Linked DNA regions of Homo sapiens. The protein of the gene in region 2 purifies or fractionates together with the protein of the main gene of each other region. This does not show direct contact. Each region holds a gene or a part of one and is shown on either strand. Other genes may lie near its edges. The genes, in order: YTHDF3 and DUXB.

Region 1 (3,823 bases), on a different chromosome or scaffold from region 2:
AGAGAAAACTTTCCCTAGTTGAACTGACTCTTGTGGCCCTGTGATCAAAGTCTAGCCAATATTTGGGGGGCTAATCCCCATATGGGCCACTCAATAGGATATTTTTAAAAAATAAAAATAAAAATATTCTGGCCAATATAATACAAGGATAAACAGCATGTTTTATTTCAGGAATGTCTCCCTCAATCTTACAGAGGGTATATAACAGAATTAGGAATCAAATTCTGCAAAGCCTCTATTTTGTACAAGTGCTTTAAGTATAAAAATTATAAAAATACTTCAAGAGTTTTATGTTTTAAAAACATATTTTGCCAGGCACAGTGGCTCATGCCTGTAATCCCAGCACTTTGGGAGGCCGAGGCGCACGGATCACGAGGTCAGCAGTTCAAGACCAGCCTGGCCAACATGGTGAAACTCGTCTCTATTAAAAATACAAAAATTTGGCAGGCATGGTGGCGTGTGCCTGTAATCCCAGCTACTCGGGAGGCTGAGGCAAGAGAATCACTTGAATCCGGGAGGCGGACGTTGCAGTGAGCCAAGACCACTCCATTGCACTCCAGCCTGGGCGACAGAGAGCGACTCCATCTCACAAAAGAAAAAAAAAAAAAAAAAAAAAAATATATATATATATATATATATATGTAATTTCTTATAAACACAAAATTAGAGTAAAACATTTATTTAAAAGTTGTTTCAGCTGGGTGCAGTGACTCAGGACTGTAATCCCAACATTTTGGGAGGCAGAGGGGTAGGGGCAGATCCTTTGAGCTCAGGAGACCAGCCCGGGCAACATGGTGAAACCCTCTATCTACAATAAATACAAAAATTAGCCAGGCGTGGTGGTGTGTGACCGTAGTCCCAGCTACTCGGGAAGCTGAGGTAGGAGGATCACTTGAGCCCAGCAGATCAAGGCTGCAGTGAGCCATGTTCACGCCAGTACACTCCTGCCGGGACAAGAGAGACCCTGTCTGAAAAAAAATTAAATAATATATAAAATATAAATAAATAAAAACTTGTTTTAAGTGCCAGGTTCAGTGGTACAGGTCTGTAGTCCCAGCTACTTGGGAGTCTAAGGCAGGAGGATTGCTTGGGGCCAGGAACTTGAGGCTATACGCCATAACTGCACCTGTGAATAGCCACTGCACTCCAGCCTGGGCAACACAGCAAGATGTCATCTCAAAAAAAAAGTTGTTTCAAACTCTAAATATATTTTCTCCTATGTTAGTATGATTAATAATATTAATGATTAGAGCCCCTGGTTAGTTCATGAAGTCTGTTTAGTTACAAATGCCAAAATTCATTCAGCTTTGATGATAAACACTGAGGCCCAATGGCCTTTATCATCTAGGGAGTATGAAGAATGAGCAAGAGGCTAACTCAGCGTGAGTTACCCTGGGAAAGGAAAGAAGAAATGGTTCATATAGGACACACATAGATACCTTCAAGGGTGTTTGTAGAGTTGTTTCTTAAGTAGTTGGTTTCCTTCACAGAAAGTTCTTAAACTCAGAATATACCCATCCATGCACCCCACCAGCAATACAAAGACCCCAAACAAAAAATTACTATATTCTTACCCTACGCATGGCTTCCTCCTCTTCTTGACGCTTTTCATAATGTGCAAAGTCATCAAAGATTGAGGTGGTATGCTTGAAAGTAGCAATTATTTTAAGCACTTGCTTAGCTTTTTCTAGGGGTACCTCTTGAGTGTCCCTTGAATTGGTAACCGGTTTGTTGTCATTATTTTCTAAGCGAATATGCCGTAATTGGTTATTGGGAACATCTTTGACAAAGATCCATTTAACTTCAAATTTGCCCTTCCACTTATCCTGAGACCAGACACCAGCATACGCATTATAGTCCACAACAGACTTCATTTCAGCCACTCCACAAAAATGTCCACTGCCATTCACACTGAAGAGTAAATAGAGTGGGCCTTTCCCATTCAGGGAACGGTAAGCTGCATCCAAACGCTTATTACCATGCTCAGTACTACACCAGATAGAGTATTTAATGGAACGATGTATGTCATCCTCAGAGTAGCTTTTAATTATAAACACACGTCCATTCTTCAGATTCCAATCAAAGTCTTTGGGATTATAGTTGTTTATGGCCTTTAGCTTTTCCAGCACGGGATGCACTTCTACACTAGAAGGTGAAGCACTGACAGGTACAACACCTAAACCAAAGTTTTCACTGCCCGCTCCATTGTTCTGGTTGAAGCCTGCTCCCCTGTTACGAGGAGCTACCCAGCGATTCTGCAGCTGCTGCTGTTGAGGCTGCACTTGGTGAGGCTGGGCCTGTGGCTGAGGTCCTTGTTGCTGCTGTGGTTGTGGTGGTTGAGGCTGCTGTTGAGGCAGTTGGCTTTGCACCAATGGTGGTGGTTGAATTAATGGCTGAGGCTGCTGGATTATAGTTTGAGGAGGCAGAACTGGTTGGGTTGGTGGAGCCTTTACCACTGACCCTTTTTCATCCCAAGTTCCAATATTCATGTTGTGTTTTATAGGAGGTGGTGGTACAGCAGAACCCCCAATTCCCACATTGCCCTTGGGTTTAAGTTTCGGTTGAGGTTTGGCAGGCTTTCTGGCAATGGCAGCCCAGGAGGTTGGTTTAGGTGCTGCACTGCTAACTGGGGGCACACTATTGGTTGCAATGCTAGTCATACCACTGCTGCTCAAAGCTGTACCTACAGTTTTTGTCACTGCAGCTGTCAGGTCACCACCAATTTTCAGTCCAGTCATGCCTTGCTCAATACTGCTAATGCCAGGCACCTTACTCAAAGTATCATTGCCAAATCCAGCCTGTCCATCAGTAATAGCTCTCCCAAGAGAACTAGGTGGATAGCCATAACTGCTACTATAAGCAGAACTTTGTGTTGATTGTCCCTGAGATCCACTTGTCCCCCATGTAGAGAAATCAGCATTACCAGGAAAAAAGTTAAATCCATGTTGACCAAGAAATGGAGGGGTATTTCCTAATGCCCCAGGTTGACTAAATACACCATCTGGTATATAGTGATGTTCTCCATTACTCATTTGTCCATAGGTTGTCAGATATGGCATAGGCTGGTCTCCAGCTGTGGACCACGCTGCTTCCCCAAGAGAATATGGAAATCCAATGGATGGAGCATAGTAACTAGGCATGTATGGATCTGACATTGGTGGATAGCTGTTACTCTGCAAAACAAAATATCACAATCAGTAGCGAAATGTCCTCTTAAAAGAGCAAAAAAAGAAATCTGAAAGATTAAAATCAAGAAGTTTTAAGTAAATGAAAATAAAAGATGTACCTATTCTAGATAAACAAAATTAAAATTTCAAATCCAGTTTTATCAACAGAAAAATTTGCTGATGAGTAGTCACATCTTAAAATATTTCTTACAAACTAACCTATATGGCTTTTTTCAGGGATGAGAGTGGGGGTATAATGAGTATTATTTTTGTTTGAAGAGCCAGGCCCTCTGTCACAATTTAAAAATATCATAATTTCTACAAAAGGCTAATATATAAACTTTGTGGACACAAAATTACCATTTACAGCCAGCTGTACTTTAATCAATTGATGTATGCAATCACTTACACACAAGGATTAAATAAACTAGACAACTCTGCCGAATAATAGAGGAATTACAGCTTATCTATATGATGGAATCCAGTTCAACCATTAGATTTTGTACTTTCATTAAGGAAAAAATGGAGAAATGCTCACAGTCTTGAGAAGATTCAAGATTACGTTTATAGCATGATGCAAATTTCTTTTTGTTTTGCTTTGCCTTGTTCATTTCAAAAAAAGACATAAAACAAATTCCTTATCATAGTTTCTTATT
Region 2 (4,533 bases):
CTTTATTTGAGACAAAGTCTTGCTATGTTGTCCAGGTTGGAGTGCAGTGGCTATTCACAGGCATGATCCCACTACTGGTCAGCATGAGAGTTTTGATCTGCTTTGTTTCTGACCTGAGCTGGCTCACTCCTCCTTAGGCACCCTGGCGGTCCCCAGCTCTTGGGATGTCACCGTATTGATGCCAAACTTACTGCAGGCACTCAATCCACACAACACAGGCACAGTATAGCACAGAATGCCTGGGCTCAAACGATTCTCCTGCCTCAACCTCCTAAGTAGCTGGGAGTACAGGTGCACACCACCATGAGAAGGAATCACAGATAACTTCTTTTTTTTGGTAGACATGGTCTCGCTCTGTCTGCCAGGCTGAAGTGCAGTGGTGCAATCACGGCTTACTGCAGCCTTGACCTCCTGGGCTCAAATGATCCTTCCACCTAAGCCCCTGAGTAGCTGGGACTGCAGGTGTGGAACAACAAACCCAGCAAATTAAAATACATGTTTTTGGAGAGATGGGGTTTTACTGTGTTGTCCAGGCTGATCTTGAACTCCTGGCCTCAAGTGATCTTCCACTCTCAGCCTCTGAAAATGTTGGGATTACAGGTGTGGGTCACCCTACCCAGTCCAGGTATCTTTCTGATAACTGGAGAGATTTAACTTAAGTTTCATTTTATGTCAGTTATTCTATTTAAAATAATTCAGTATGGAATTTTATTTCAAACGCTATGTGTATGAATCACATTTGAGACATTAAATTAAGAAATAGCCTGAGACTTCGGAATGCACATGCATTCTTACCCCAGTTTCCTTGTAATTACATATTAATAATCGATCTGAATATTCTAATACTAAAATATAGGACATAATTATCATGGTGATTTCATTTCCTATATTCTCTAAATCTCAAAATATGACTTAATTACCTATTGGGAGAGACTGAGCCAGTATATTCTCCTTCCCCATTAGTGAATACAAATGATATTTCCACCTTTGGTAAAATACATAAACCGCATCCTTGTTTTTATTTGTTTTCTTTTCTTTTCTTTTTTTTTTTTTTGAGACGGAGTCTCGCTTTGTCTTCCATCCTGGAATGCAGTGGTGTGATCTCTGCTCACTGCAAGCTCCCCTCCCGGGTTCACGCCATTCTCCTGCCTCAGCCTCCAGAGTAGCTGGGACTACAGGCGACTGCCACCACGCCCGGCTAATTTTTTTTTGTATTTTTAGTAGAGAGAGGGTTTCACCATGTTAGCCAGGATGGTCTCCATCTCCTGACCTCGTCATCCGCCTGCCTTGGCCTCCCAAAGTGCTGGGATTACAGGCGTGAGCCACCGCGCCCAGCCTTTTTATTTGTTTTCTAATTTTGTAGAACAGGAAAACGTTTCTTAGCAAAATACCTGATATAACCTGATATAAGAGAATTGGCAAAAGCGCTGGGCCTAGTCTTTCTCTTTACCATGGTTCTGACAGGTAATGAAGTAGAAATCTAATGCCTACCTGAATATTAGATTCTGGAACCCCAATTTCTTTGGCCAGTTGTTCTCTGGCAGCTTTATCAGGGAAAGGGTCATGTTGAAACCATGATTGGAGGATATCCTTTTGACTCTGGTTATACTGAATTCTGTTTCTCCAGAATTCTTTTTGAAGTATGCCTGATGAACAGAAAAGGGGGAGAATAGTGTGAATAATATATTTATGGGTTTAAATCTGTACTTTGATTAAATTAATTTATTTTGAGACAGAGTCTCACTCTGTCGCCCAGATTGGAGTGCAGTGATGCAGTTTCGGGTCAATGCGACCTCCGCTCCTGGGTTCAAGCGATTCTTAAGCCTCAGCCTCCGGAATAGCTGGGACTACAGGTATGCACCACTGTGCCTGGCTATTTTTTTTTCTTTGTAGAGATGAGGTCTCATTATCTTGCCCAGGCTGGCCTCGAACTCCTGGGTTCAATTGATCCTCCTGTCCTGGCCTCCCCATTTTGTTAATTATTATTATTATTATTATTGTTACTATTTTTTGAGATGGAGTCTCGATCTGTTGCCTAGGCTGGAGTGCAGTGGTACCATGTCAGCTCACTGCAAGCTCTGCCTCCCGGGTTCACGCCATTCTCCCCGGTCAGCCTCCTAAGTAGCTGGGGTGCCACCACACCTGGCTAATTTTTTGTATTTTTTAGTAGAGACAGGGTTTCACCGTGTTAGCCAGGATGGTCTCGATCTCCTGACCTCGTGATCTGCCCACCTCGGCCTCCCAAAGTGCTGGGATTACAGGAGTGAGCCACCGCACCCGTACTGTTAATTATTACTCTGTATTTTTACTTTAGGCATAGAGCTAAAGTCATGCTAAATTGGGTATATAAACATTTAAATATATATATTAGAAAACGATAATCAATGACCTAAGTTTCCAAAGAGAGAACTTACGGAAAATGTACAAAATTACCAAAAGAGGAAGCAGTAGGGAGGAGGAAAATTAACAAAAATCAATGAAAAAAGTGAAACTCATGGAACAATTGAACAGGTGAAATAAGACACACAGGAACTGGTACTTCTAATGACAAAGAATATATCTCAGTAAAATTCAGTAGGCTGCATTAGACAGTTCATACATTCTCCCCTCCACATAAACTGTCAACTTTAAAACTTTAGGTAGATGACCCTTGTATGGGACTCATGGCTGCCATCTTACATTTCAAATTCAAGAGTCCAACTTCAAAGCACCCATGGCTGTTCTGACACAATTTATCAGCGAAAAACAGCTGCTGCTCTACCAGTCTGTACCTCTAATCATGTTTGTGCTATAAACTTTGACAAACTCTGAAAAATAAGCAAGACATGCAGCAATCCCAAAGAACAGAGAAAAGGCTGATGGGAACTTACCACCTGAAGTGCCCTCCAAATTCATCTTGGGCAGAAGACCTGGACTCCACGGAGATCAGCGAGTAACTGAGCAGCTCTCAAAGACACAGGCTTTATATAGGGTCAAGGTGACCCGCCCCTTTCTTAAATAGCTTTCAATTTAATCCCCTCATTAAATATTTAACACCTGTAGAAAGAAACTTGAAGTAATTAGATTAAGTGGAAGTACAGATTCTACGTGGTGATTTTGTCTTCTTCATAATACCTTTCTAAATATGACTCTTGTTTAATTATTTCAGTTTGGCCATATTAGTTTCTACATTATAAGAATGTCCTTACCTTACTTTGCATTTTTTGTTTTCCTCGGCTCTTCTGAAACTCATGTCTTTTCAGCATTGCGATGGTGCTATCTGTGTGTCAACTTGGCTGCTCTACGCTCCCTATTTTTTCAATAAAACACGAATCTAAGCATTGCGATGAAGGTATTTTGCAGACGTGATTGGGTTATATAATCAGTTGGCTTTCAGTAAATGAGATTATCCTGGATAATCTGGGTGGGTTATTTTCTATCAGTTAAAGGTCAATCAGTTAAAGAGCAAAGCTGAGGTTGCCCTGGAGGGTGGGGGTGGTGGAAATCACATCTTGGGAGGGTGGGGGTGGTGGAAATCACATCTAGCTGGGGGTGGTGACTCAAGCCTGGAATCCCAGCACTTTGGGAGGCTGAGGCAGCAGGATCGCTTGAGCCCAGGAGTTAAATTTCAGCCTGGGAAACGCAGGAAGACCTTATTTATGTAAAAATTTAAAAAAATTCCGTAAGTGCTCAGCTGCTTCATCTGCTGTTTTAGGAGTTTCCACCTGCTTTTCTGAAGGGCCTACCCTACAGAATTTATTCCTGCCTACCCAGACCCTACAATTATAGAAGTGAGTTTTGTATTGCTGTGGCCTGAATGTTTATGTAGCCTCAAAATTCATATGTCGAAATCTTCACCACCAAGGTAATGGTATTAGGAGGTGGGGCCTTTGGATAGTGACTAAGTCATGAGGGTGGAGTCCTCATGAAGGGGATTAGTGTCTTTATCAAAGAGAGCAGACAGGGAGGGAGAGAGGGAGATCCCTGTGATCCTTCTGCCACGTGAGGTTAGAGTGAGAAAATGACTGTCTACTAGGAAGTGGGTCCTCACCAGACACCTAACCTGATTGTACTTCCCAGTCTCCAGAACTATGAGAAATAAATTTCTGTTGTTGATAAGCTAGCCAGTCTATGGTATTTTGTTATAGCAGCCTGAATGGACTAAGGCATATATATGTCTTTATATATATATATGTACAAGTGTGTATGTGTATAGATACCTATATATTTATAATATAAACACACACAGGCATACACACATATATTATATATAGTTCACTAGTTAATAGCTGACCTCGGAACACTACTGATTGTTTCTCTGATGGAACCCTGAATGATACAGATGTTGATGTGCCCAAAATCATAATTACTGTCATGCGCATCCGTGTGAAGAGACCACCAAGCAGGCTTTGTGTGAGCAACAAGGCTGTTTATTTCACCTGGGTGCAGGTGGGCTGAGTCTGAAAAGAGAGTGAGCAAAGGGTGGTGGGATTATCGTTAGTTCTTATAGGTTTTGGGATAGGCGGTGGATTAGGAGAAATGTTTTGTGGGCAG

What was found.
Region 1: the proteins of DUXB (region 2) and YTHDF3 purify together in Homo sapiens (affinity purification with mass spectrometry, with the first as the bait; one large-scale study listed by BioGRID). This does not show direct contact.

Annotation. Positions count from the first base shown.
Region 1 is NC_000008.11:63,185,497-63,189,319, reverse strand, and holds part of YTHDF3 (YTH domain-containing family protein 3), read right to left. Parts: intron 3,174-3,823; coding exon 1,575-3,173; intron 1-1,574. UniProt on the Homo sapiens protein: Specifically recognizes and binds N6-methyladenosine (m6A)-containing RNAs, and regulates their stability. M6A is a modification present at internal sites of mRNAs and some non-coding RNAs and plays a role in mRNA stability and processing.
Region 2 is NC_000016.10:75,698,524-75,703,056, forward strand, and holds the start of DUXB (double homeobox protein B), read right to left. Parts: upstream 2,939-4,533; 5' UTR 2,896-2,938; coding exon 2,871-2,895; intron 1,647-2,870; coding exon 1,492-1,646; intron 1-1,491.